Linked DNA regions of Homo sapiens: regions 1 and 3 are each linked to region 2. Evidence: fine-mapped expression QTL. A gene starts in region 2. Each other region holds a variant in brackets. All regions are shown on one strand. Distances are from middle to middle.

The links.
Region 1: its variant is fine-mapped to the expression of HSDL2-AS1 in prefrontal cortex (GTEx, PIP 0.93).
Region 3: its variant is fine-mapped to the expression of HSDL2-AS1 in anterior cingulate cortex (GTEx, PIP 0.96).

The regions. Positions count from the first base shown.
Region 1 is chr9:112,360,578-112,370,776 of GRCh38, reverse strand. It overlaps a transcript of PTBP3 not described here and the pseudogene RPL32P22. Among named protein-coding and RNA genes, the nearest start is that of HSDL2, 14 kb to the left of the region's middle. The variant G/C (reference allele first, on the strand shown) is at 4,464.
Region 2 is chr9:112,483,663-112,493,861 of GRCh38, reverse strand. It overlaps HSDL2-AS1 (HSDL2 antisense RNA 1), which reads left to right and starts at 6,218. Exons shown (of 5, transcript NR_171779.1): 1 at 6,218-6,883; 2 at 7,321-7,472. It overlaps KIAA1958, which reads right to left and starts at 7,035. Exons shown (of 4, transcript NM_133465.4): 1 at 6,744-7,035. RefSeq lists silencers at 6,437-6,926, 7,007-7,066 and an enhancer at 7,497-7,556.
Region 3 is chr9:112,383,457-112,393,655 of GRCh38, reverse strand. All of the region lies in intron 1 of HSDL2 (hydroxysteroid dehydrogenase like 2), which reads right to left. Among named protein-coding and RNA genes, the nearest start is that of HSDL2, 8.4 kb to the right of the region's middle. The variant T/C (reference allele first, on the strand shown) is at 5,882.

The DNA of each region.
Region 1 (10,199 bases), 120 kb after region 2:
GCAAGGCATTCCAGTTCATGGGTTGAAAGACTTAAAATTGTCAAATTACAATACTCCTCAAAGCAATCTACAAATTCAATACAATCCCTATCAAAATTATAATAGCTTTATTCATAGAAATGGAAAAGCCAATCCTCAAATTAATGTGGACTTGTGAGACATCCCCAATAGCTAAGACAATTTGAAAAAGAACAACACAATTGGAGGACTCATACTTCCAGATTTTTTTTTTAATTGAAACGGGGTCTCACTCTGTCATCCAGTCTGGAATGCAGTAGCGCAATCTCGGTTCACTGCAACCTCCACCTCCTGGGCTCAAGTGATCCTCCCATCTCAGCCTCCTGAGTAGCTAGGACCACAGGCATGCATGACCACACCACTATTTTTTTGTATTTCTGGTGGAGATAGGGTTTTGCCATGTTGTCCAGGCTGGTCTTGAACTCCTGAGCTCAAGTAATCCACCTGCCTCAGCCTCCCAAAGTGCTGGGATTACAGGCATGAGCCATTGCACCTGGCCCACACTTCCATATTTTAAAACTTACTATAAGGTTACAGTAATCAAAAGTGGGAGCAGTGACATCAGCAAGATGGTAGAAGAGGATTTTCCAGCATTTGTTCCCTTGCAGAAACATTGTATTAGTCCATTTTTATACTGCTATTAAGAAACACCTGAGACTGGATCATTTATAAAGAAAAAGAGGTTTAATAAGCTCACAGTTCCACATGGCTAGGGAGGCCTCTCAATCATGGCAGAAGGCAAAGGAGGAGCAAAAGCATGTCTTACATGGTGGCAGGCAAGAGTGTGTGTGCAGGGGAACTGCCTTTTATAAAATCATCAGATCTCATGAGATTTATTCACTATCATGAGAAAAGCATGGGAAAACTGGCCCCTATGATTCAGTTACCTTCACTGGGTCCCTCCCATAATACCATAACACGTGGGTATTATGGGAGCTACAATTTGAGATGAGATTTGGGTGGGGACACAGCCAAACCATATCATTCTGTCCCTGGCCTCTCCCAAATCTCCTGTCCTCGCATTTCAAAACACAATCATGCCTTCCCAACAGTCCCCCAGAGTCTTAACTCATTTCAGCATTAATTCAAAAGTTCATAGTCTGAAGTCTCATCTGAGACAAGGCAAGCCTCTTCCACCTATGAACCTGTAAAATCAAAAGCAAGTTAGTTACTTCCTAGATACAATGTGAGTACAGGCATTCAGTAAATACACCCATTCCAAATGGGAGAAATTGGTCAAAATCAAGGAGCTAAAGGCCCCATGCAAGTCCAAAATCCAGAGGGATAGTCAAATCTTAAAGCTGCAAAATAATCTCCTTTGACTCCGTGTCTCACATCCAGGTCACAGTGATGCAAGTGGTGAGTTCTCATGGTCTTGGGCAGCTCCACCTCCATGGCTTTGCAGGGTACAGACGCCCTCCCAGCTGCTTTCACAGGCTGATGTTGAGTGTCTGTGACTTTTCCAGGTACATGGTGCAAGCTGTCAGTGGGTCTGTCATTCTAGGACCTGGAGGATGGTGGCCCTCTTCTCACAGCTCCACTAAGCAGTATCCCAGTGGGGACTCTGTGTAGGGGTTTCCACCCCAAATTTCCCTTCCACACTGCCCTAGCAGAGGTTCTCCATGAGGGCTCTGCCCCTGCAGCACACCTCTGCTTGGACATCCAGGTGTTTCTATACATCCTGTGAAATCTAGGTGGAGGTTCCCAATCCTTAATTCCTCACCTCTTTGCATCTGCAGGCACAAGACCTCGTGTAAGCCATCAAGGCTTGGGGATTGGACCCTCTGAAGCAATGGCCTGAGCTGTACATTGGCCCCTTTTAGCCATGGCTGGGGCACAGGGCACCAAGCAGCAAGGCCCTGGCCCTGGCCCATGAAACCATTTCTTTCTCCTAGGTCTCCCAGCTTGTGATGGGAGGGACTGCCGTGAAGACCTCTGACATGCCCTGGAGACATTTTCCCCCGTTGTCTTGATAATTGACATTTGGCTCCTCGTTACTTATGCAAATTGGCTAAGTTCACAGAGGTATTTCATCTCCCCTGGCCCAAAGCACTCCCACTAGTGCTGCATACACTCCAATCCATCCCTTTGGGAAAACATCAATTGTCCCCTTATGAAATTATAATGGGAAGGCCCATGTGTATGGGAATGAAAATAACCAATCCAACTTTTCTCAAGGGAGTTATATTGTAATATTGTGAGGGAATCATTTATCACCTTAAAAAAAAAAAGCCAAGATTTGATAAAGAATTCCTTTCACAGTGTGCTCCCTGAAGATAAGGTACCTGGGCTGGGCACGGTGGCTCACACCTGTAATCCCAGCACTTTGGGAGGCCAAGGTGGGTGGATAACTTGAGGTCAGGAGTTCGAGACCAACCTGGCCAACATGGCGAAACCCTGTCTCTACTAAAAATACAAAAATTAGCTGGGTGTGGTGGCGCACGCCTGTAATCCCAGCTACTCAGGAGGCCGAGGCACAAGAATCGCTTAAACCTGGGAGACAAAGGTTGCAGTGAGCCGAGGTTGCACCATTGTACTCCAGCCTGGGCAACAGAATGACGCTCTGTCTCAAAAAATAAAAAATACAAATACAAAAATTAGCCAGGCATGGTGGTGCATGCCTGTAGTCCCAGCTACTAGAGAGGCTGAGGTGGGAGGATTGCTTGAATCCAGGAGGCAGAGTTTGCAGTGAACCAAGATTGTGCCACTGCACTCCAGCCTGGGTGACAGAGTGAGACTTCGTCTCAACAACAACAATGAAAAGAACAAAAAGAAAAAAAAACTGAAGAAAGCCTACAGGAATCATGGGATATCATCAAACAAACTAATATATACATTATGGGAGTTCCAGAAGGAACAGTGAAAGAGAAGGGGGCAGAAAACTTATTTAAAGAAACAATGACAGAAAACTCCCCAAATTGGGAAGGGAAATGAACATCCAAATCCATGAAACCCAAAGAATCCCAAATAGATTAAATATAAAGAGATCTTCACTGAGGCCCATTATAATCAAATCATCAAAGTCAAAGATAGAAAGAATTTTGAAAGCAGCAAGAGAAAAGGAACTCATTACATACAAGGGAACCATCATAAGATTATCATTGCATTTCTCAGTAGAAACCTTGCAGGCCAGGAAACCATGGGAATATATTCAAAATGTTGAAAGATGAAAAAACTTGGCAACTAACAATACTATACCTGACTAAGAATACTATACCTGCCAACTAACAATACTATACTGTTCTGAAGGTCAGTAATGCTGTCCTTCAGAAATAAAGGAGATAAGAACCTAGCCAAAAAACAAAACAAAACAAAAAAACCCAAAACACAAACAAAAAAACCTGTGGGAGTTCATCACCACTACATCTGCTTTACAAGAAATGCTAAAGGGAGTTCTTTGTGTTGAAACAAAAGAATAATAGCTAACAAAATGAAAACATGCAAGTATAACATTCACTGTAAGGGTAAAAATAGTCAAATTCAGAATACTCTAATATAGTAATGGGGGTACATAAATCACTTTTAACTGTAGTCTAAAGTTTTTTTATGTATTAAAATATAGCTATAATAATTTGGTCATGGATAGACAACATACAAATTGTAACATCAATAACATAAAATGTGGGAAGAAAAGTTAAAATGCAAAGTTCTTGTGATGAAAGTTAAGCTAGTGTCAACTTAAAATAGACTGTGATAAGATATTTTATGTTAGGCTCATGGTAACCACAAAGAAAGCAGGGCAGTCAAATCTTAAAGCTCCAAAATGATCACCTTTGACTCCATGTCTCACATCCAGGCCATGCTGATGCAAGAAGTGAGTTCCCACAGTCCTGGGCAGCTCCACCCCTGTGGCTTTACAGGGTATAGCCCCCCTCCTGGCTGCTTTCACAGGCTAGGATTGAGTGTCTGCAGCTTTTCCAGGTGAATGGTGAAAGCTGTCAGTGGATCTATCATTCTGGGGCCTGGAAGACGGTAGCCCTCTTCTCACAGCTCCACTAGGTGGTGCCCCACTAAGGACTGTGTGGAGGCTCTGATTCTACCTTTCCCTTCTGCACTACCCTAGCAGCGGTTCTCCATGAGGGCCCACCCCTGCAGCAAACTTCTGCCTGGGCATCCAAGCATTTCTACGCATCTTTGGAAATCTAGGTGGAGGTTCAGAAACCCCAAATCTTCTGTGAACTTGCAGGCTCACCACCACGTGGAAGCTTCCGAGGATTGGGGTTTGAACCCTCGGAAGCCATGGCCCAAGCTCTATATTGGCCCCTTTCATCCATGGCTGGAGTGGCTGGAAAGCAGGGTGCCAAGTCCCTAGGCTGCACACAGCTTGGGAACACTGGACCCAGTTCATGAAACCATTTTTTCCTCCTGTGATGGGAGGGGCTGCCATGAAGACCTCTGACATGCCCTGGCAACATTTCCCCCATTCTCTTGGGAATTACCATTCA[G/C]CTCCTCATTACTTATGCAATTTTTTTTTTTTGAGACAGAGTCTTACTCTATTGCCCAGGCTGGAGTGCAATGGTGTGTCTTGGCTCACTGCAATCTCCGCTTCCTGGGTTCAAGCAATTATTGTGCCTTAGCCTCCTGAGTAGCTGGGACTACAGGCATGCACCCCCACACCCAGCTAATTTTTGTATTTTTAGTAGAGACTGGGTTTCACCATGTTGGCCAGGCTGGTTTCGAACTCCTGACCTCATGATCCACCCACCTTGGCCTCCCAAAGTGCTGGGATTACAGGCCACTGTGCCCAGCCACTTATGCAAATTTCTGCAGCTGGCTTGAATTTCTCCTCAGAAAATGGGATTTTCTTTTCTATCGCATTGTCACGCTGCAAATTTTCAGAACTCTGCTTCCCTTATAAAATGGAATGCCTGTAACAGCACCCAAGTCACTTTTGCTCCAGTTATCAACAAGTTTCTCATCTCCATCTGAGACCACCTCAGCCTGGATTTCATTATCCATATCATTATCAGCATTTTGATCAAAACTATTCAACAAGTCTCTAGGGAGTTCCAAACTTCTCCACGTTTTCCTGTCTTCTTCTGAGCCCTCCAAACTGTTCCAACCTCTGTCTATTACCGGTTCCAAAGTCACTTCCACATTTTTCGGTATCTTTTCAGCAGCACCCCACACCACTGGTACTAATTTACTGTATTAGTCCATTTTCATGCTGCTGATAAAGACATACCCAAGACTGGACAATTTACAAAAGAAAGGGGTTTAATGGACTTACAGTTCCACATGGCTGGGGAAGCCTCACAGTCATGAAGGAAGGCAAGACGGAGCAAGTCACATCTTACATGGATGGCAGCAGACAAAGCGAAAGAGTGTGTGCAAGGAAACTCCCATTTTTAAAACCATCAGATCTCATGAGACTTATTCACTCTCATGAGAACAGCAAGGGAAAGACCCACCCCCATGATTCAATTATCTCCCACTGGGTCCCTCCCACAACACATGGGAATTATGGGAGCTACAAGATGAGATTTGCCTGGGATCACAGAGCCAAACCATATCAGTGTCCATCAATGGATGAATGGATAAAGAAAATGTGACATATGTATAGATAGATACATACATATATAGATACATAGATAGATAGATAGACATATACAATGAAATACTATTAAGCCTTAAAGAAGAAAGAAATCCTGTCATTTGTGATAACATGGATGAACGTGGAAGACATTATGCTAAGTGATATAAGCCAGCCACAGAAAGGCATGATCTCACTTATGTGTGGAATCTAAAAATGTTGAACACGTAGAAGCAGCAAATAGAAGGGTGGCTGCCAGAGGCTGGGTTGTGGTGGGGGTGGAGGAATGGAGATATGTAGATTACACGGTACTGAAACTGTTAGATAGGGTCAGTAAGTTCTGGAAATCTAATATACAACATAGTGACTTAGTTAGTGGTAATGTATGTAAGTATGCCTTGTTTTATGGAGCTTCACTTTATTGTACTTCACAGATAATGCATTTTTTACAAATTGAATATTTCTGTCAACCCTGTGTCACGCAAGTCAATTGGTGCCATTTTTCCAATAATGTGTCCTCACTTTGTGTCTCTGTCATATTTTCCTAATTCTCACAATATTTCTTTTTTAAATTTCTTAATTTTTTAAAAATAGAGACAGGGTCTTGCCCTGTTGCACAGGCTAGAGTACAGTGGCGTGATCATAGCTCACTGCAGCCTTAGACGCCTAGGCTCAAGCTATCCTTCCACCTCAGCCTCACGAGTAGCTGGTTCTACAGGCTTATAGTTTTTGTAAAGACAGGGTCTTGCTGTGTTGCCCAAGCTGGTCTTGAACTCCTGGCTCAAATGATCCACACACCTCGGTTTCCCAAAGTGCTGGGATTACAGGCATGAGCCATGGTGCCTGGCCCCCTGGTACTTTTCTTTACCAAAATACTTATAAAAGGTTAGTATGCTCTTTTGCTTTTCTTCTGCTTTGCAAATAACTAGGGCTTTTTTTTTGTCTTCTTGAAATTCTCTTATCAAATTAAACTTTTATTGCCTGTTTTTAAAGATCTTGCTACTGTGAGACCCTGTCTCAAAAAAAAAAAAAAAAAAAAAAAAAAAAAGAACTGACCTAGCAAGCCACAGTGACATGGAGGAAAGTTAAATGCATATTACTAAGCGAAAGAAGCCAGTCTGGAAAGGGTACACACTGTATGATTCCAAATATATGACATTCTGAAGAGGCAAAACTATGGAGACAGTAAAAAGGATCAGTGTTTGCCGGTAGTTAGTGAGGAGGGAGGGATCAATAGGCAGAGATCAGAAGATTTTTAGGGCAGTAAAACTATTCTGTATGATACCATAATGTTACAGATATGTCATTATATATTTGTCAAAATTCACAGAAGGTACAACACAGAGTGAACCCTATGGATTTTGGTTGATAATGATATGTCAATGTTGGTTTATTGATTATATCAAATTTACCATACCAACTGGGGCTGTTAATGGTGGAGGAGGGAGTATGTGGAAACTCTCAGTACTTTTTGCTCAATTTTTCTGTGAATCTAGCACTCTTCTAAAAAATCAAGTCTAATAATTACAAAACAAAAGCAAAAACCATGTGGTATTGGCATAGGGATAGACATATAGATCAATTAATAGAATAAATAAACTGATACACTTATGCTCTATTGATTTTCAGCAAGCATACCAAGACTAATAGGTCAAGAATAGCCTTTGTGTGTGTGTGTGTGTGTGTGTGTGTGTGTGTGTGTGTGTGTGACAGTTTTGCTCTGTAGCCCAGGCTGAGGTGCATTGGTGTGTGGATCTTGGCTCACTGCAGCCTCAACCTCCTGGGCTCATGCAGTCGGCCCACTTCAGCCTCCCGAGTAACTGGGACTACAGGCTGGTATTTTTTGTAGAGACAGGTCTCACCATGTTGCCCAGGCTGGGCTTGAACTCCTGGGCTCTAGAGATCTGCCCTCCTCAGATTCCCAAAGTTCTGAGATCACAAGCGTGTGCTACCAAGCCCAGCCCCAGATATTCGTATTAACTAGATATTCTTATTCATAAAAGAATGAGTTTGGACCCACCCCCTGACTCCATCTCAAAAATTATATGAAAATTAATTTTTCACAGTTTTTATGGTTTTATTTCAACACAAAACATGCACATGAGCTGTCTATTCCCTTTCTTTGCTGTGCTGCCTGGCATTGCGACTGGTGACTCTGATGGCCAGCTGGGCTGCCCTTTCCATGATGGCTTTGCAGTTCCAGAGGACACATTGTGAGCTATCTCAGGACAGTAAGATTTTCTGCATGTCAGCAGCCCTTCCAAGTCCTTGACAATGCGTACCAGAAACTTCCAGAAGCCGCTGGGCAGCATGTGCTTTGTGTTTTCATTGCTTCTCTATAACCAATGTTGGGCATCAAGATCTGGCCCTTGAATCTTCTATGAACGCAGTTGTCTCTGGGTTTCCACCGGTTATGCTTAATTTTGACATATTGTTCTGACTGGTGGTGAATGAACTTCTTGCTCCTCTTTTTGATGATCTTGGGCTTCATGAGGGGTCTGATGGTGGCCATGATGGTGAGTAAGAGATGGCTCTAAAAATCAACCCCAAATGGATCAAAGACCTTAAATGTAGGAGCTAAAATTATAAAGCTCTTGAAAGAAAACATAAGGGTAAATCTTCATGACCTTGGATTTGACAATGGATTCTTAAATATGACACCAAAAGCACAAGCCACAGAAGGGAAAAAAAAGAAGATACATTGAACTTCATAAGAATTAAAATAATTAATTTGTGCATCCCAGGACACTATCAAGAAAGTGAAAAGACAACCTAGAGAATGAGAAAAAATACTTATAAATCATATACCTGATAAGGCTCCAGTGTCCAATATATACACAGAATTCTTACAACAGCTACAGAAAAATGAACAACCCAACTAAAAAATGGGCAACGATTTGAATAGATATTTTTTCTTTTCCTTTTGCTAGACAGGGTCTTACTTTGTTGCTCAGGTGCAACCATGGCTCACTGCAGCCTCAACCTCTCCCTCTCAGTTATCCTCCCCTCTCAGCCTCCTGAGTAGCTGAGACTACAGACTCATACTTTTTGTAGAGACAGGGTCATGCCATGTTGCTTAGGCTGGTCTCAAACTCCTGAACTCAAGCAATCCTCCTGCCTCAGCCTCCCAAAGTGCTGGGATTACAGGTGTGAGCCACAATGCCTGTCCCCAAATAGATAATTTTCTAAAGAAGATATACTAATGGCAACAAGCACATGAAAAGATGCTCAATAGCATTACTTAGGGAAATGCAAATCAAAACCACAATGAGATTCCACTGTACACCCACTAGGTTGACTATAATAAAAAAAAGGAAAGTAACAAGTGTCGGATGGGATGTGGAGAAATTAGAACCCTCATACGTTACTGGTGGAAGTATAAAATGGTTCAGTAGCTTTGAAAAACAGTTTGGCAGTCTCTCAGGTTAAACACACTTGCTAGTTCCCGAATGTCCACAGTCAAAAGAGCAATTCCACTTTTTGGTATGTATACCGAAGAGAAATAAAAACATGTTTAGAGTCACCACCAGGTGGCACTGTTATTTTAAAATTCAAAATTGTATAATGCCACAAAATGTTAATTTATTAACAATATTGTGATATAATAATTGACTTGGGTTAAGGCAAAAATAACAAAGTTTTCTATAGCTCTCAAAAAAGGAAAATAAGGTAGAAATTTAAATGTCTTAATGAAAATAATGCTTTGAATCATTAAAACAGGATATGATACTCCAATCCATTTTATATTATTAACGTTTTCAAAATTACCATAAAATGGACAAAGTTATCTTCCCTTGTTTTGTGGCTTCTAAAGTCTATGAAGTTTAGGCTGGGTGCCATGGCTTACACCTGTAATCCCAGCACTTTGGGAGGCCGAGATGGGCAGATCACCTGAGGTCAGGAGTTCAAGACCAGCCTGACCAACATGGTGAAACCCCGAATCTACTAAAAATACAAAAAAATTATCCAGGTATGGTGGTGGAGGCCTGTAATCCCAGCTACTTGGGAGGCTGAGGCAAGAGAATCATTTGAACCCAGGAGGCAGAGGTTTCAGTAAGCCAAGATCTCACCACTGCACTCCAGCCTGGGCAACAGAGTGAGACTCTGTCTCAAAAAAACAAAAAATAAATAAATAAATAAAGTCTATGAAGTTTAATTCTCCAATGTTAAAAAGTAATTTTCAAGTATATAGGAGATTGAAAATGCCTGATCAAATTGAAATATTAAAGGATATGACACTGACAACAACTTTAAGCTTAAGTTATCAAATAAGGACTCTCCTAACCCTGAGCTTGCATAATAATCCATTTTTTAAAGTGTGTAATTTAGTAACCTTCCAATTTCTTGACCACAACCCACAAAAGGAAATAAATTATTTATTCAGACCCAGTACAAAGTTTTTATTCTATTTTATTTGAATCTTGTCTGCCTTGTTAAAAAAAAAAAGTTGATTCTAACCTACTAAATAAGTTTGGTGACTCATTAATGGATCGTAACCTACTGTTAGTCGTATTATAACTTGCCATTGAAATTTTTCCATTTGAGTTTTAAGATGTTTTAGGCTTCTCCAGTGAAAAATAATGTTACAAATTGATGGTCAGAGGCCAACAACAATATAATGTGACTCAGAGCAGATGATTTCAATGGC
Region 2 (10,199 bases):
AACTCCTGCAAGAGAGTAACATTTTTAAAGATAGTTGAGGGGAAAAAAAATGTGAGTCAAGTATTTTTATTCAGTCAAAGTGACCTTGAACTATAAAAGCCACAGATAAACAGTGTTAAATATGAAAAGCAAGGGATACATTTCACATGAGCCACTACAAGAATTCAATGAACTTCAGACTACTAGATGATTACAGAAGCTTTACCGTAAGGACTTCTGTTGCACACTGAATATATTTAAATGAAAAACTAAGACTAATGCAAAGGTAACACAGTAGCATATGATTCACATATGGCAAACAGACAGAATTGAGAAATCTTGGGCAGCAAGAACTGACTGACCCAGGGGCTTGATTATGTATGGAAAATGGGATTAAGAATAAAGAAGGAATCAGAGATAACTCCTAAATTTCTGGACTGGGAAAATGGATGGAAGGTGGTACCAACTCACTGAGCTAAGGAATAAAAGAAAAGACACAGATGTGAAGAGGACAATAAGTCTGGGGCATGTTGAATGTGAAATGCTTGTGGAAAATTAAGTGAATATATCCAGTCGTAGTAGGACACAAAGATGTGGATTTCAGGAGAAAAGCCCCGACTAGATATTAGATTCAGGAATCATCAGACATGCGTGAAAAGAACAAATAGTGCATAACTTACCATGAGAGCAGCAAGACCAATAGCTGAAAAAAAAAAAGCACTAAAAGAAACAAGTCCTCAGAACTCAGAAGAAAATAACAGCATTAGCACTTCCACTGAATTTGGCCACAATAATATTCTCCAGTATTCCAAAACAACTATTAAGAATTTTGGCCAGGCACAGTGGCTCAGGCCTGTAATCCCAGCACTTTGGGAGGCCCAGATAGGAGGATATCATGAGCCCAGGAGTTCAAGACCAATCTGGGACACACAGGCCTCATCTCTACAAAAAAAAAAAAAAAAAAAAGTGAGCTGGGCTCTGGGTGTGCACCTGTGATCCCAGCTACTCAGAAGGCTGAGGTGAGAGGACTGCTTGAGCTCAGGAGGTCGAGGCTGCAGTGAGCTGTGATCACGTTAGTGCGCTCCATCCTGGGCAACAGAAAAAGATCCTGTCTCAAACAAACAAAAAAAGGATTTTGTACTTTAAGTCATTAAAAATAAAGCATTTAAAAACAATGAATATGAAGAGTGAAAAACAAAAAGCCTTTAGCTACTTTATTTTTAATGACTATATATAGAGTTGATCATATTGCTATGTATTGGGGCCTGGGATTCAAGTGAAAAATTGCCAACAAAATCCCACATGTGGAGTGAGGTATGTATGTACATATGTAGGTAGGTAGGTATACATGCATGAAAGGCAGTAGGTAGAGGGATGGACTGTGTTATAGGCTGAACTGTATTCCTCTCAAATTCATCTGTTCACATCCTAAACCCTGGTACCTCAGAATGTGACTTATAGGGGAAGTAAGGCCTGGAATAGAGGTAATTAAGGTAAAATGAAGTCATATGTGTGTGCCCTAATCCAATGTAAGTGATGTTCTTAAGAGGAAATTAGGACACACACATACACAGAGGGAAGACCAAGTGAAGCCACCTTAGGAAGACAGCCATCCATCAGCCAAGAGAGGGGCCTTAGAAGAACCTAACCCTGCCAACACTTTGAGCTTATACTTCTAGCCTCCAGAATTGTCAGAAAATAAATTTTTGTTGTTTAAGACAACCAATCTGTGATTCTTTGTTATGGCAGCCCTAACAAATTAATACAAGCTGAGAAGAGGAAGTAGTCCTAGCTGGTTAAGAATTCACACATATTGTCAACTCCGTCCCAGAAATATGAAGTCCTATAACAGAAAAAAGGATAGAGCTTTTGATATATGGTGATTATGCCTTAAATCATGCAAGGAAAATATTTTTAAAATAATAAGTATTTCCAGAGGAAAATATAAGAAAAAACTGAAGGGACAGAATATTTGCAATTAAAAAAGGACAGAAAAGGTTAAAGCAGTATCAGTTTTGAAGAAAACCAAGAATAAAAAGAGAAGCCAACCAAGAAGTATCCTATGCATGAAATGAAAGTTAACCAAAGAGTAAATGAATCATCTAAAAACAATCCAGAGAAGCAAGGGAAAGCAATGGAAGCAACTTTGGATAATTATTTAGAATTAAAAAGAGTTATGTGTATGTTAAGTTCAGCTAATGAAATCCTTGATGATTAACAAACAAAAAACATTTTCAGGCATCAAGTGAAAATATATTTCCAGTAGGTTTTAATGGAATTTTGGTTCTTTGCAGGTTTCTTAAGGAAAAAAAAAACAAAAAAAACAAAAAAAAAAACCAGCTAATAATTACTAGCCATTCCATACATATTACTTTTTGTCCTATCTCTGGAGCTAAAGAGGCCATAGATTTCCAGAGGAGAGTAAGGTGAAGGAGAAAGCTATTCTCTAACTTGCAGCAACCAAGGGGGGAGCTACTCCCTGGTGCTAGGTTGGCCAAAGTTCATGCAGAGAAGAAAAAAAGCTAGAGTAGAAATTCAGCATTTTATGGTAAGATTTTTAATGTTTTTAAATATTGCTTCAACGTTTTAACGTCTTCTTAAACTTTTTTAAAGTTATGGCTGGACGTGGTGGTTCACACCTATAATCCTAGCACTTTGGGAGGCCAAGGCAGGAAGATCATTTGAGTCCAGGAGTTCAAGACCAGCCTGGGCAACACCGCAAGACCCCATCGCTACAAAAAATAAGAAAAATTAGCTAAGTGTGATGGCACGTGCCTGTAGTCCCAGCTACTTGGGAGGTTGAGATGTGATCCTTTGGGCCCAGGAGTTTGAAGAGGCAGTAAGCTATGGTTGCACCACTGTATTCCAGCGTGGGTGACAGAGTGCGACTGTGTCTCTAAAAAACATAATGTTATATCTCACATCAAAGTTGTATAATTTCTTTTGATACATAATGTTACTTCCTTTCAGTATAAGAATATCACTGTTGTCCTAGACCAAGATTCTTTGCTTTCCATATTATTTTCAAGTGTAATAACATGTTTCTGAAATACATCTTCTTTGTCACTAGAGCCATTAGCATTACCACTATGAACACTAACGGTGAAAAAGCTCTCCAACTGTTTAAGTGTAAGACTTTGCAAAACAAACTTGAATACGGCTGCATAATTTGCCTTTCTCCAGAAAAGCCTATTAAACTTTGTTGGCATTGGATACAAAATAAAATTCAAAAATTTGCATTTTCAGTACTTTTCGTTTCTTGACCTTTATTTGAATTTGAGACTAAGCTTTACCAAACAACAGAATTTACACAGTAACTAGCCAACCACAGTCCTCATTATGGAATCTATGCAGTGCATTTGTTACCTAGGAAACGGACCAGAGCACAGGCAGAGTGCAATTTCAGTCTAGCAAAAGAATTCTCCAATCATGCTAGTAAATAAAGTCCATAAATCAACTAATCAGAAGCAAAGTCAAGAAGTATCACGTAAGAGTTAAGCTCAATGGAAACTTTTTTTAAAGGAAAAAAAGAAACCTGTGGGGCTTCCTCAGGCAACTATGTAGATCTCTTAAGTAAATATTATGAGCAGGTTTCTTTACAAACACAAACTGTCAGAAAATAAACTGTTCAAAATAAATGGCTTCTCTCCAATCTTCAGCTTCTCTATTTTTGACAGTACTTAAGAGAAAAAGCTTCTTTAGAGCCAGCCTCATACATCTGGTACCAGAATATTAATCCAAGAATGAAATCTGCATTTTCAGCAAGCAGCATGGTGTTGGTGCTGTTGTTAAACAATGCAGGATGATGATAAAAGCTGGAATGAGAGGTCACTGTCCACACCTCTCACAGCCGGACCTGCTTCCCCACCAGGCTACAAAAAAATGTCAAAAAGAAAGACTTGAAAGTCACAGATCTATTACAAAGAATAAAATTGTTACTTTTCAGCTTTCCATTTATTGCTAATGAAAACACTAGTCATTTGAGCATTCCAGTTAACATAAAGTGGCCATTTTAGGCTTCTTGTAATGATACTACATTGATAACCAATAAACAGGAAAATGCTAGAAAAGTCCATGGATTTTAAAGCCTATCAAATTTAACTGTGGACGGCTTAATGTTGTTTTAAAAAGAGAAGGTGGTAAATGTCAGCTATATTTAAAAATCCAGTTTTACACAAATTCAAATTTTCTGGAAGCAGCACTTATTTGTCAAAATAAATGAAAAAAATTTCAAACATGAAAAATGAAAAATAATTTATATGCTTTCCTCAACACCAACTTACCAGAAAGGAAATCAGCTGAAAATATGTAAGGTTCTCTGGAATGCTTCTGATCACACTAAAATATTATTGCTAATTACACAAAAAACAAAAAATTCTTATCTACCTATCAGTCAAAAAAAAAAAAACACAAAAACATAAACAAAACTAGGTGTTATCTTTCAGCCAGCCCACATAAAGACTACATTGATGATCTCAGAAAACAGGCACAACTACAACTTTGCCAAAACAATTCTCAGTACAGGCCACACTCGATGCTTAGCTACACAGTGACTCTTTGTTAAATCTTATCACTACCACTGACAGCCTTGTAAATATATAAACAAGCAATTCAATCGTTAGCTTATCTTTTTTAAATATTTTAAAGAGCTAAGGAAGAGTACGTATATCTAAGTGCTGAAATTCTGAGAGTGGTCTAGAACTCCATTCCTGGATTCACGATAAAGCCTGATCAAATTTCAATACCTCTTCTCTTTGGGCTATTACTAGGAATGGAGAGGGACAAGGAACGCTAGTCAAGGGCCTACCAGAGCCACATACTGAGCTGTGCTTCTGTGCAGAATTTAAATTCATTTACCTAATGCAGACTGGAAGTCAAAGCAGAAACTAGTAAAATTTTATCAACTAAAAAGGATTGGCTTGATCACTGCTAGGTTTTAAGTAATGTGTGTACAAATCTACGCTCCAGGCATTTACAAAATTAGGCATGCAATAATATTAATCTGTTTAACTGGGACAAGAATCTAGATAAATTTTTCTCCTAGAAAAAAGCACTATTTTAAGCATACTAAACTTTTTATAATGACAAAAATCAGTTTGTCTTTAAAAAAGTGCATTAAATTGTACACTGTTTACTAATTTTCAAACCTTAATGAAAATTTAAATACATAATTTTCCACGTTTTTCCTTCAAGTTTAGATGATAATGCTTTTTGTTTTTTTAGGAAAACCTCTATTTTTTACATATGACTGTCCATATAATTGTATGCATGGCCCCCAAAACTGCTTCTTCGTTTTTTTAATCTCCTGGGTAACTGTCAGACTTAACTTTGTCAATATAAATTCTCACAGGGTGGGCAAAAAAGAGTTTCCAGAACGGAGCAGTAGATTGAGATTGATACAGGCATAAATCCATACCTGCGTATTAAAAATCTGAATCTGTAAAATTAATTTTCTGGGTGCTTATTCAACCTCATTTATTATTTGAGTATCTACAATACACAGCAACCGTTCATGAAGAAACTTAGCTAGCTAATCAAATAAGACAATTCAGAAACATCACCCTACAGTATTTTTCAAAACACTGTATCCATATCCATGCACAACCCAATCGTTGGGTTATATACGTGGAATAAAATAGTAAAGGCACAATCCTAGAGGGGAAACTCAATTCTGACATTCATGGTCTCATGGGTAGGGAAAGATCTCATATCTTAAATCAGCAGAAATAAAGGCTTCAGCCTGAAGGGAAAGCTAGATCATTGTTTATTGCACTCCAATTTAACCTCCACCATGGAAGCTGTCACTACCTGACTGGCTTGTTAGCTGTTTATTTCGTCGGGAGAGGATTCCGTCTTGCGAATCCTAACGAGTTCGGGAAAAAACAAAACTTTACTCCTAAACTTCAAAACACACACACACACACACACACACACACGCACACACACTAAATACATATAATTGTAAAAATCACAGCCACGTTCATTTTTTTTAAAGTCCCAATCTAAAACCTTAAAGAAAAAAAAAGACTTGAAGGAACCAAAAACATTCTTTGATTTTGGTTTGACGTTGTTCAGTCCAACCTCCTCCTACCCAGGGGAATACATTTCTCGATATATTTGATAACAAACACAAATCACTGTGCGCAGCCTCAGATGGGGGTGGGGGGGCGGAAGAGCCTTTTGGAGAAAGCCCTCCTCCGTTAGAAACAATAAATAAGGGAGCGAAGCCATGCACGTTCCTTCACACACGCCCCAAACGCACCTCGGCGAGCCACCCGAGGAGGAAAACTAGTGGGGCAGAGCCCTGAACCACCTCTCTTTCTCCATAAGCATCTCAAGACTTGGAAACTAAGAGGACAGACCTTTTCCTCCTCCTTCCCGCCCTCCTTCCCACCTCCGACAGACCCAAGAGCAGGAGCGGGGGCGCCAGCCCCACGCACTGCGCCTGCAGCCGCCGCTGAGACCCGAGCTGCCGGGCGGCGGGGCGGCCCGGGGCAGGCGGACCGGAGCCGCCACCGGGGGTCTCTGCGCCTCGCACCCCCAAGCCCGGCGCTGCCGACGAGCGGCCGCCCGGGTCCCTGCCCTCGCTCCGGCCTCGCTCCCCCGAGAGGAGACAAAAGGAAGGTTCAGCCGGGTCACCGCGCGGCCGCTGACGGGGAAGCAGAGTCGACCCCGGCGCGGCCGCCCCCCACACAAAGGGGCTCCCCGCCTGGGTCGCGGCGTCGGCGCACTCGTCCCCGCCCCGCGCGCGGGCTCTCACCCACCTGCAGGTGTCTGTGCGTCTGTCCATAGGAACGCGGTCGGCGCGGGGGGGCCTGCGAGAGCCGGGCAGCCCGGGCTGGACGGGACGGGCCGAAGGGGCGCGAGGGCGGGAGGAGAGCGGCCAGAGGGCCGGGCACCAAAGGTAAGTGGAGCGGGGAAGGCGCCCGGCGGGCGGCGGACCGAGGAGCGGGGCGGGGGGCGGGGGCGCCAGCCTGGCTCGGCCGACCGCCGCGCGCCGCTCCGTGCGCCCCGAGCTCCGCGCGCCCGGCTCGGAGCGCGGCGGGCGGGCAGGGGGCGGGGCGCGGGCGGGCCGGGGCGGGGCCGGCGAGCGGGGCGGGGGCTCGGACCCCGGGCTCCAGCCGGCACCGGAAACGCGCCGTGGTCGGCGAGACCCACAGGAAGTGTGTAACGACACCTCCTACGGCACGCACCGAGCTCGCAGTCGTTGCTGCCCCGAGGAGGTGTAGATCGAGCCTCCTGCCGCACACACGTTCGCACGCGGCGGCCGGCGCGCTGGACCGAGAGGTTGGAGCAATCCATCCTCCGCGCGCACGAGCTCAGTCCCTACTGCCCCGACAGGTGTGGAACCCGCCGTCCCCGCTATGGTCCGAGGAAGTGTACAGCACTGCTCCCTACTACACGTCCTGGGCCCGCGGTCCCCGATGCCCCCCGGAGCTCTGTGCACCTCCACTGAAACGCAAGGAGCAGACAGAACCTACACCATCCGTGAGGTGTGTGATTTCCCTTATAACGCATTGAGTAGAGTTACCTCTCCGCCCAGGGATGTGCATTAACACTTTCTACCGAGATACTACGTACAGCCCATAGTCACCGCTGCCCCGTGAAGGTGCCCAACAACCACCTGTAACACACACACCCCTATCCCATCGAGGGAGCGGGGATGCTTAATGATACCTAAAATACACTAAAACTAGGTCCTCCAGCAAACCAGAGACACAAGAACACCACCTACACGACTCAGCACAGCAAAGATGAAGCTGGACTTGCTAGGTGCTACCAGGCTTGGTCCACCTTTATTTTACCTAACACTTTCGTAGTACTTGCTGTGTGCCCACAGTTTGCACTGAGTACTTAGCGAATATTAATTTATTTAATCCTAAGAACTCTACATAGTGGGTGCTATTAACATTGCCATTTTATGATAAGGAAACTGAGGCACAGAGAAATTAAGAAATTTTTTCAACATCACATAGATAGTAGCTAGAGGAGCCTGGATTCATTCCGGACAGTCTGGCTTCAGAGTCTGCTCTTAACTCCCTTTCTATTTACAGCACTGACCATCTCCAAAACAGTAATCATGGTAATAAATAACATTTACACCATATCTGTCAGGCCTTACGTAGTGCCCACATCTTGGCCTCACCTCATCTGTGACAGGCATACCCCAGTCACTTGTACCCTTGGAGTAGGTAAGGGAAGAGAAGAATATTTTTGAGGGAGAGAAAGAAGCTAACTTCTTAGCAAAGGAGAAAATATCCAGGGTCGTCCAGAATCCAAGCAGGTAACTTCATTACCACATCAAGCATGTTCTCTTTTAGGTAGCTTCTGCCAACCCCTCTCCATCTCTAGAGCTGATTCCGGTTGATGTTCTTAACACCTTCCTCTATCAACACTCTTCCAGGTCTAGGCTGAAATTTAAAATCTGTGTAAATGTTGACACAATAATGTTTGTACAAACAAAAAAGACCAAAAATGAAAACCCCCTAGTTAATTGCTGCATATTCTAAAGATGGGATCTTGTGGAGAAATTGGAACTCTTATGCAATGCTGATAGGAATGTAGATGGTACCACCACTATGCAAAACAGTGGGGAAGTTCCTCAAAAAACTAAAACTAGAGCTACCATATGATCCAGCAATCCCACTTCTGGGTAAATATCCAAAAGAATTGAAAGCAGGATATCGAAGAGATATTTGCACATTCATGTTCATTGCAGCACTATTCACAATAGCCAAGAGGTTGAAGCAGCCCAAATGTTCATCAACAGATGAAGAGATGAATGAAAATGTGATATATACATATAATGGAATATTATTCAGCCTTAAAAAGGAAGGAAATCTTATCACAGGCTACAACATAGATGAACCTTGAGGATGTTGTGCCAAGTGCAATAAACCAGTCACAAAAGGACAAATACTGTTATGATTTGACCTATATGAACTATGTAGAGGTATGTAAACTGTGGGATTATGTCAAACTTGTGGAAACAAGACGGTAGAATAGTGGTTGCTAGAGGGTAGAGGGAGGGGAAAATGGTGATATAATGTTTACTGGGTACAGAGTTTCAATTTTGCAAGATGAAAAATTTCTAGAGATGTTACACAATAATGTAAATATAACACCACCGAACTGTACACTTAAAAGTAGTTACAAAGGTAAATTTTAAATTGTTTTTGCCACAATCAACTTCAAAACAAATCTAATTTTATTTGTTTAAAGGATATTTCACTACAATGAATTTTTTTAATGATGCAGGCATCCAACCATGATGAGGTACCTTGTTGAACAAACTAACTCTGCCACTGAGAACGATGAAAGCTGTTTAAAAAAATAAATAAGTCTGTTTAAAACAATTGGAGAGCAACCCTGTCATCCAAGGCTTGAGAGTCCACGAGCCCCCCAGGAAGAAGAGAAATACTCTGAAGTGAGTCCTGCATTCTCAGCCGCTTTTCCTTCTCAGGGCATTGTTGATTTGTGTCTAGGAGTGTAGAAGTCAGAAAGAAGCACCCTAGAGCTTACCGGCAGTCTTACTGGCCTGGAGATACAAAATTTGGAGTCAGGTCTATTAAGGCAGCTAGGACTTGAAAAACGAAGATCCTAGAGAAAGCAATCACAGTAAACCTAGTGGGTTGGCTGAGGGCCATAATCCCGGCACTTTGGGAGGGTGCGGCAGGAGGATTGCTTGAGGCCAGGAGTTTGAGACCACCTTGGGTAGCATAGTGAGACCCTCGTCTCTACAAAAAGAAAAAAAAATTAGCTGGGCATGGTGGCCCACATCTCTAGTTCCAGCTACTCAGGAGGAGTAGAGGAGAAAGAGAGAAGAAAGGAGACCTGTGAGATTATGCTTTTATTAGGTCTATAGGCATTATGCCCTTAAAAAACACATGCACAAAGGAGAGGAACTTATTTCCAAGACTCTGGTGTTAACCATTAGGTTTTTGTTTTGTTCTGTTTTGTTTTGAGACAAGGTCTCCCTCTGTTGCCTAGGCTGGAGTGCAGTGGCGTGATTTCAGCTCACTGCATCCTCTACCTCCCTGCCTCAGTCGATCCTCATGCCTCAGCCTCTTGAGTAGCTGGGACTAGAGATGTGGGCCACTACGCCCAGCTAATTTTTTTTTCTTTTTGTAGAGACAGGGGTCTCACTGTGTTACCCAGGGTGGTCTCAAACTCCTGGCCTCAAACAGTCCTCCTGCCGCACCCTCCCAAAGTGTTGGGAT
Region 3 (10,199 bases), 100 kb after region 2:
TCTAAGAGATTTGTTTTCACTTTAATCGCTGTGATCATGGGCCTAATTACAGTCACTGCACTGGCCACCACTGCCAGAGTGGCGTTACACCAATCTATTCAAGTGGCTCATTTTGTTAATGATTGGCAAGCCAATTCCACCCAAATGTGGAATTCTCAACAGGGCATTGATCAAAAATTAGCTAATCAAATTAACGATTTAAGACAGTCTGTTATTTGGCTTGGAGATTGGCTAATGAGTCTCGAATATCACATGCAAGTGCAGTGTGACTGGAATACTTCTGATTTCTGTATCACACCATATTCCTACAATGAGACTGATGAGTCATGGGAAATGGTCAAAGGACACCTGCTGGGTAGGGAAGATCATTTATCCTTGGACGTAACTAAATTAAAGACAATAATTTTTGAAGCCTCTCAAGCTTATTTATCCATTGTGCCTGGAGCTGAGGCGTTAGGTCAGGTGGCAGAAAGTCTTTCTGGACTAAACCCCACGACTTGGATTAAGTCTATTGGGGGCTCCACTGTAGTAAATTTTGGAATCATGTTTCTCTGTTTAATCGACTTTTTAGCGTGCCAGACCAGTCAACGAATCCTGCGTCAAAACCAAGAGAACGAACAAGCCTTCATCGCCATGGCTCATTTATATAAAAAGAAAGGGAGAGATGTTACAGGAAGTCTGGGACCCCCCAATGGAGGGAACAGTTGGAACCATGGCAGAGGAATATAAATTGTGAAGATTTCATGGACATTTATCAGTTCCCAAATAATACTTTTATAATTTCTTATGCCTGTCTTTACTTTAATCTCTTAACCCTGTTATCTTTGTAAGCTGAGGATGTACGTCACCTCAGGACCACTGTGATAATTGTGTTAACTGTACAAATTGATTGTAAAACGTGTGTTTGAACAATATGAAATCAGCACACCTTGAAAAAGAATAGAATAACAGCAATTTTTAGGGAACAAGGGAAGACAACCATAAGGTCTGACTGCCTGTGGGGTCAGGCAAAAAGAGCCATATTTTTCTTCTTGCAGAGAGCCTATAAACGGATGTGCAAGTAGGAGAGATATTGCTAAATTCTTTTCCTAGCAAGGAATATTAATATTAATACCCTGGAAAAGGGATGCATTCCTGGGGGCAGGTCTATCAACGGCCACTCTGGGAATGTCTGTCTTATGCAGTTGAGATAAGGAGTGAGGGAGTGAGATACGCTCTGGTCTCCTGCAGTGCCCTCAGGCTTTCTAGGGTGAGGAAAAACTCTGCCCTGGTAAATTTGTGGTCAACCGGTTCTCTGCTCTCAAACCTGTTTTCTGTTGTTTAAGATGTTTATCAAGACAATACCTGCACCACTGAACATAGACCCTTATCAGTGGTTCTGCTTTTTCCCTTTGTCCTGTTCCCTCAGAAGCATGTGATCTTTGTTAGACCCTTATTAGTAGTCCTGCTTTTCACCCTTTGAAGCATGTGATCTTTGTACCTACTCCCTGTTCTTACACCTCCCCCTCTTTTGAAACTCTTAATAAAAACTTTCTGGTCTGAATCTCAGGCAGGCATCACAGTCCTACTGATATGTGATGTCACCCCTGGAGGCCCAGCTGTAAAATTCCTCTCTTTGTGCTGTCTCTATTTCTCAGCTGGCCGACACTTAAGGAAAATAGAAAGAACCTATGTTGAAATACTTGGGGCAGGTTCCCCCAATACCTTCTTTTGCAAAGTTCCTATTAATTGGTTTTGCCCATTTTTCTTTTCTTTTCTTTTTTTTTTTTGAGACAGAGTTTTGCTCTTGTCGCCCAGGCTGCAGCTCACTGCAACCTCCACCTCCTGGGTTCAAGTGATTCTCGTGCGTCAGCCTCCCAAGTAGCTGGGATTACAGGCGTGTGCCACTACACCCAGCTGATTTTGTATTTTTAGTAGAGACAGGGTTTCTCCATTTTGGTTGGGCTGGTCTTGAACTCCTGACCTCAGGTGATCCACCTGCCTCCGCCTCCCAAAGTGCTGGGATTACAGGCATGAGCCACCAAGCCTGGCTGGTTTTGCCCGTTTTTCTATAAATAAGGTTAACTTTTTTCTTATTGACTCATACAAGTCTATAAATTACATACATTTCAGTATCTTTTCATTTGTGGCTTGCTTTTTCACTATTTTTATAGTGTCTTTTGATTAGCAGAAATTCTTTATCATTAGAGATTGGGTCTTCTGTATCACCCAGGCTGAAGTGCAGTGTCTGAATCACAACTCAGTATAACCTCCTATTCCTGGGATCACAATTCTCCTGTCTCAGCCTCCCAAGTACCTGGAACTACGGGTGCATGCCAACATGCCTGGTTAATTTAATTTTTTTATTTTTTGGGGGGGGACAGGGTCTTGCTATGTCGCCCAGGCTCATCTTTAATTTCTGGCCTCAAGCAATTCTCCTGCCTCAGCCTCCCAAAGCACTGGGATTATAGAAAATTATTATTATTATTATTATTATTTTTGAGATGGAGTCTTACTCTGTCACCCAGACTGAAGTGTAGTGGCGTGATCTTGGCTCACTGCAACCTCTGTCTCCTGGGTTCAAGTGATTCTCCTGCCTCAGCCTCCTAAATAGTTGGGATTACAGGCATGTGCCACCATGCCTGGCTAATTTTTGTATTTTTAGTAGAGACAGGGTTTCACCATGTTGGCCAGGCTGGTCTTGAACTCCTGACCTCAAGTGATCTGCCCACCTTGGCCTCCCAAAGTGATGGGATTACAGACATGAGTCACTGCGTCCAGCCTAGAAAATTTGTTAAAGAATTTATAATTCTTTTCTTTTATGGCCAGGGCTTTGGGAATCTTAAGAAATTCTTTTTTTCCTGTAAGTGGATTAATTTGTATTTCAAAAGTTTTATGGTTTACCCTTTAAAGTTTGGTCTTGAGGCCAGGTGTGGTAGCTCAGACCTATAATCCCAGTACTTTGGGAGGCCGTGATGGGAGGATCGATTGAGCCCAGGAGTTCAAGACTAGCCTGGGCAACATAGTGAGACCCTGTCTCTACAAAAAATAAAAAAATTAGCCCAGTGTATTGGTGTGCACCTGTAGTCCCAACTACTCAGGAGGCTGAGGTGAAGGATTGCTTGAGCCCAGGAGGTCGAGGCTGCAGTGAGCCATGATCATGTCACTGCACTCCAGCTTGGTGACAGAGCGAGACCCTGTCTCTAAATAGATAAATTAATAAGTTTGGTCTTTAATCTACCTGGAATTAATTTTTGTGTATGAACTGAAGTAAGGGACTAATACATTTTTTCCCTACATAGATAACCAACTGTCCAAGTCTGAAATGCCCATCTTTCCCACTGCTCTTCAATATCAGCTCTGTCATAAACTGAATGTCCATAAATATATATATTATCTGCTTTTGGACTCTCTATTCTGTACCACTAATCTACATGATCACACTGCCTTAATTAAAACAGCTTTATCAGTCTTAATAACTGATAAGGCAAATGATTCCAATTTATTCTTCTTCAAGAGTTTCTTGTCTATATTTGGACCTTTAATTTTCCACATATATTTTATTTTATTTTTTACTTTATTTATTTATTTATTTATTTATTTATTTATTTTGAGACAGAGTCTCACTCTGTTGCCCAGGCTGGAGTGTAGGGGCGTGATCTCGGCTCACTGCAACCTCAGCCTCCTGGGTTCAAGTGATTCTCCTGCCTCAGCCTCCTGAGTACCTGGGACTACAGGTATGCGCCACCATGACTGGCTATTTTTTGTATTTTTAGTAGAGACAGGGTTTTGCCATGTTGGCTAGGCTGGTCTGGAATACCTGAGCTCAAGTGATCCACCGGCCTCGGCTTCCCAAAGTGCTGGGATTACAGGCATAAGCCACCACGCCCGGCCCACATATATTTTAGAATCTCATTATCTAACTGGTCAAGTGAAATCAGTTGAGATTTTGACAGAAATTACATTAAGTCTATAATTCAAAGTGGAAAGAATTGACATTTTTGTGACAGTGAGTGTTCTAATCCATGAACATGGTATAATTCCATTTATTTAGGTCTTTCTAATGTATTTCATTATGATATAATTTCCTACAGAAAGGTATTATACATCTTTTGTTGGCTTTATTCCTAGGTACTCCATTGTTTTTAACTTTTTCCAACTTTTTATTTGTAAATAATTCAAATTTAAAGTTGCAAGAATAATAGTACAAAAAAAATATTCACATATCCTTCACCCAGATTCATGTATTGTTAATATTTTACCCCAATGATTTAGCATTTGTGCTCATTTTCTCTCCTTCTCCCTTTCTCCTTCTCTATATCTTATTTTCTCCAAACCACTTAAGAGTGATTTGAGGCCAGGTGCAGTGGCTCATGCCTATAATCCCAGCAATTTGGGAGACCAAGACGGGGATCACTTGAGCCCAGAAGTCGAAACCAGCCAGGGCAACATAGTGAGACCCTGTCTCTACAAAATTAAAAAATTAGCCATGTGTGGCAGTGTGTGCCTGTAGTCCCAGCTACTCGGGAGGCTCAGTCAGGAAGACTGTTTGATCCCAAAGGTTGAGGCTGCAGTGAGCCATGATTACACCACTGTACTCTAGCCTGGGAAACAGAGACTGACCCTGTCTCAAAAAGAAAAAAAAAAAAAGTGATCTGAATACATCAAAGCTTGGTCTCTCATGTATCTACTTTCACAGTATTTTAATTTTGTCAATTGACTCAATAATGCCCTTTAGAGCATTTTTTCCTTCCACTACAGGACCCGGTTTAGGGTAGTGCTTTTAATTGACATATCTCTTTAGTCTCCGTTAATCTAGAACATTTTTGCAGCCTCTTCTGTCTTTTATGATATTGACCTTTTGAAAAATACAGTCTGCACTCCTTTTTTAAAAAATATAATGATCCTTACTTTTTTTTTTCCAAGATGGAGTCACACTCAGTCGCCCAGGTTAGAGTGCAGTGGCACTATCTCAGCTCACTGCAACCTCCACCTCCCAGGTTCAAGCAATTCTCCTGCCTCAGCCTCCTGAGTAGCTGGGATTACAGGCATGCACCACCACACCTGGCTAATTTTTTTTTGTATTTTTAGCAGTGACAGGGTTTCACCATGGTCTTGGACTCCTGACCTTGTGATCCACCCACCTAGGTTCCCAAAGTGCTAGGATTACAGGTGTAAGCCACCACACCTGGCGTATTTTTTTTTTTTTTTTTTTTGAGATGGAGTCTAGCTCTGTCTCCCAGGCTGGAGTGCAGTGGCGCGATCTCGGCTCACTACAACCTCTGCCTCCCACGTTCAAGTGATTCTCCTGCGTCAGCCTCCCGAGTAGCTGGGATTACAGGCACGCACCACAACGCCCAGCTAATTTTTCTATTTTTAGTAGAGACGGGATTTCACCATGTTGGTCAGGCTGGTCTTGAACTCCTGACCTCGTGATCTGCCCGCCTCGGCCTCCCAAAGTGCTGGGGTTACAGGCATGAGCCACTGTGCCTGGGTTTTTTTTTGTTTGTTTTTTTCTGAGACAGGCTCTTGCCCTGTCACCCAGGCTGAAGTACAGTGGTGCAATCACAGCTCACTGCAGCCTTGACCTCCTGGACTCAAGCAAATCTCCCACCTCAGCCTCCTGAGTAGCTGGGACTACAGGCACACATCATCAAGCCCAGCTAATTTTTTTATTTTTTGTGGAGACAGGGTCTCACCATGTTGGCCAGCCTGGTCTTGAATGCTTGGGCTCAAGCGATTCTCCTGCCTTGGTCTTGCAAAGTGCTGGGATTACAAGCATGAGCCACCACCCCTGGCTGAATGCTCATTTTGGATTCAACTGATATTTCTTCATGATTAGATTCCGGTTATGCATTTCCAACCAGAACATGTGATACTGTATTTTCCTCAGTATATCCCA[T/C]AGGGCAGCATACAACGTCCATCCGTACTCACTTTATAATGTCAATTTTTATCATCTAACCATAGTGTTACCATATTTCTCCACTGCACAGTTACTATTCCTTCCCTTGCAACCAATAAACAATCAGTGCAAAAACGAAGACTCTTTTTATTATGGAATTTTCAAATACATTTAAAAAACCAGAAAAGAGTATAATAAGCTTCCATGTTTATTCAACTACTAAATTGTGAAAGCAATCATCAGAAAACAAATCCTAGGTAGGCATGGTGGCTCATGCCTATAATCTCAGCACTTTGGGAGGCAGAGGTGGGCAGAACGCTTTAGCCCTGGAGTTTGAGACCAGCCTGGGCAACATAGAGAAACCCCATCTCTACTAAAAAATACAAAAATTAGCCAGGCATGTGGTACGCACCCATAGTCCCAGCTACTCAGGAAGCTGAGGTTGGAGGATCACCTGAGCCCATGACACGGAGGTTGCAGTGAGCTGATTTCACACCACTGCACTCCAGCCTGAACCACAGAGTGAGACCCTGTTTCAAAAAAAAAAAAAAGAAAAGAAACCAAATCCCAGAGGTTATATACTTTCACCTATGAATACTTCAGTATTTACTTTTCTAACAGATAAAAACTTTTAAAATACCAATGTCATTATTATACCCAAGAAAATTAACAATAATTTCTCAATATCACTCAATATCTGTCTATGTTCAAACTTTTATAACTATCTCAGTTTTTCTTATGGTTGGCCTGATCAAATCAGGATCCAATAAGGACCTCACATTACATCTGGCTGTTATACCTTAAGAGTTTCTCTTTTAATCACTGCCAGCTTCCCTTCCACTCTTTATGCCATTTATTTGCTGAAGAATATACATCATATGTCCTGTAGTGGAGTCCATATCTGGGATTTTGAACTTCTCATTTTTATTGACATGTACTATATACTTCTTGCAGATTTTTGCTCGTGTAGAAATCTAACTTACTATTATTTTTTGAGAGAGTCTCCCTTTGTCGCCCAGGCTGGTGTGCAATGGCACAATCACAGATTACTGGAGACTTGACCTTCCCAGCTCAACTAATCCTCCCACTAAGCCTCCTGAATAGCTAGGATCACGGGTGTGCATCACCACGCTTGGTTAATTTTTATTTTTTTTTGGTAGAGACAGAGTCTTACTGTGCTGCCCAGGGTGGTCTTGAACTCCTGGGCTCAAGCGATTCTCCCACCTTGGCCTCTCAAAATGCTGGGATTACAGGCATGAGCCACCATGCCAAGCTCAAAATTATTTTTATTTGTTGACTTTTATATATAGCAATTTTCTTAAACTTTTATTAATTATAATAATTCAGTTATACATTATTTTGGTTTTCTGTGCAGGATAATATCATCGGCAAATAACGACAGCATTATTTATTTCATTATAATCCAAATACTTTTTCTTCCTGTCTTACACCTTATTTACTAAAGGTTACACTTCAGTCAGAAGAAAAGTGTTTCCAGATGGAAGGTCTGAAATTCAAGAAAATAGGAAAATCAAAGATATTGGTAAATAAGTACAGAAATCTTGTTTAGAAAGAGTACAATAATAATAAAATAATACTTGTGGGGTTAAAAAAGAGAATTAAAATATATTATTACAAACCAGCCTGGGCAACATAGTGAGACCCCACCTTTACCAAAAAAATATTTTTTTAATTAGTTGAGGCCTAGGCATGGTGGTTCATGCCTGTAATCACAACACTTTGGGAGGCTGAGGTGGGTGGATTGCTTGGGCCCAAGTTTGAGACCAGCCTAGGCAACATAGCAAGACCATGTTACTATTTAAAAAAAAAAAATTAAATTAAAAAAATTGGCCGGGCATGGTGCCTAACACCTGTAATCCCAGCTCTTTGGGAGGCCGAGGTGGGCAGATCACCTGAAGTCAGCTCAAGACCAGCCTGGCCAACATGGTGAAACCCCGTCTCTACTAAAAAATACAAAAATTGGCCAGGCACAGTGGCTTACGCCTGTAATCCGAGCACTTTGGGAGGCTGAGGTGGGCGGATCACAAGGTCAGGAGTTTGAGACCAGCCTGACCAACATGGTGAAACTCCATCTCTACTAAAAATACAAAAAAAAAAAAATCGGCCAGGCGTGGTGGCAGGTGCCTGTAATCTCAGCTACTCGGGAGGCTGAAGCAGAATTGCTTGAACCCTGGAAGTGGAGGCTGCAGTGAGCTGAGATCGCGCCACTGCACTCCAGCCTGGGCGACAGTGCAAGATTCTGTCAAAAAAAAAAAAAATTAGCCAGGTGTGGTGGTGCATGCCTGTAATTCCAGCTACTCTGGACGCTGAGGCAGGAGAATCGCTTGAACCCAAGAGGCAGAGGTTGCAGTGAGCCTAGATCGCGCCACTGCACTCCATCCTGGGCGACAGAGCAAGACTCCATCTCAAAAAAATAAATAAATAAATAAAACTTAAAAACTTTTAAAAAAGAAGTCTGATCTCTTACCTATAGGTGACCAGCTTCATTAATTTCTGGCCTATCATTTTTGTACTTTTTTCAAACATAAGCAAACATATATATATATAAAACACTCTATGTATGTGAAAAACTATCCCTTCCTTTTTTCATACAAAAGGTAGTATACATAAAATATTAAAGTGGTTCTGTTGTTGTTGTTGTTGTGTTTTTCTTTTGACAGTCTTGCACAAGTTTTTCACTACTGCAAGCAAGGCTGTAGACAGGTCGTGGTGACCTAGCCTGCAGAAATGAACTCCAGACACCCCTGAGCAAGGTTAAAAGACGAAAAACAATTTCCTTTACTGTCTCTCTTGTACTATTAGTTATGACTATGTTTGCCAATGCTTGTATTTAGTAAGATTTGCAAAGTTCCTGTTTTTCTTTCGATGCAGCTGCTAGGCCACTAGCTATGCAAGGCCACAGGTTAGTGCCAGGTCAGCAGTTATGCTATGGATTACGTGATTTGTCACTGTAAAATTTACTGCCTTTGTTTTGATCTTGTATGCTGGCCTATATAAGCTAAACTCTGTTTTTGTTCAAGGCTCAGCTTTTTGGATGTGAATCCACTGAGCCGGTGAGTACCTTAAATAAACATCCTCCTGTCTTCCCAATATCGGTCTCTCTGGTCCTCAGTTTACCACAACAGCCTCAACAGCTCATGGCAGCGTCAACCTCCTGGGCTCAAGTGATTCACCTCAGCTTCCCAAGTAGCTGGGACCACAGGCTAAAGTGATTTTTAATGTAAGTATTTACAAGAAAATGTCCCAACTATTGCTGTAAAAAAAAGCCATATCTCTTTGCTTTGAGTATAGCTTGATTGATTCCCAGTAGGAGAAAGGGCATTTTCTTCCTCACTCAGAGTCTCTGGCATTGGCAGAAAAAAAAGCAAACATAACCCTGATCTGTGCCAGTAAGAAGTCCTCCAGCTCCAAAGCATTAGTACCAGAATATAGAAGGCAAGAGCACTTCAAAGAAGGCTCCAAATTTCTTAGTATTATTGATAGATGGCTAAAACTTGCTGATGAAGAGCTAACTTACAGTTTAATTTACTAAAATTCTCTGGTACCCCAAAATCAGGTAAAAGTACTGAAATTTTTAGTAAAAGGAAGAACAACTGTTTCCAAAAAACTATACAAATTATTCTAAACTTCATTTGGAAAAATAAATACCCAAGTATAACCAGGAAAATTCTGAAAAATAATCCAAATGTGGTGGGAACTAGCTTTCCCACATATTAAAACATTTTGTAAAACTAGAGCAATTAAAATAGTTTGGGCTGGGTAGAGTGGCTCACATCTGTAATCCTAGCACTTCGGGGGCTGAGGCAGGAGGATCACTTGAGCCCAGGAGTTTGAGACCAGCCTGGGCAACAAAGTGAGACTCCTCTACAAAAAAATTTTTTAAAAATAGCCAGGCATTATGGCGCATGTCTATAGTCCCACCTAATTGGGAAGATGAGCTGGGAGGACTGCTTAACCCCAGGAGATCAAGGCTGCAGTGAACTATGATGGTGCCAATGCACCCCAGCCTGGGTGACAGAGCGAGGCCCTGTCTCAATTAATTAATTAAGTAAACAGTCTGGTACTGGTACATGAATAGAGACTAAAGTAGCAGAGCAGAAAGTCCAGAAACAGAGCGCTATATGTGCAAGAATTTAATATACAACAGAGGTAGAATTTCGAGCAGAAGAGAAAAGATTAACTCTTAGGTCAATGCTGCTAGGACAAATGAGCAGCCATCTGAAGAAAAATCAAGTGGGCTTCCTAACTCACTTCCTGAAAGAAATCTCAGGGGGATAAAAAAATCTGACTATAAAAA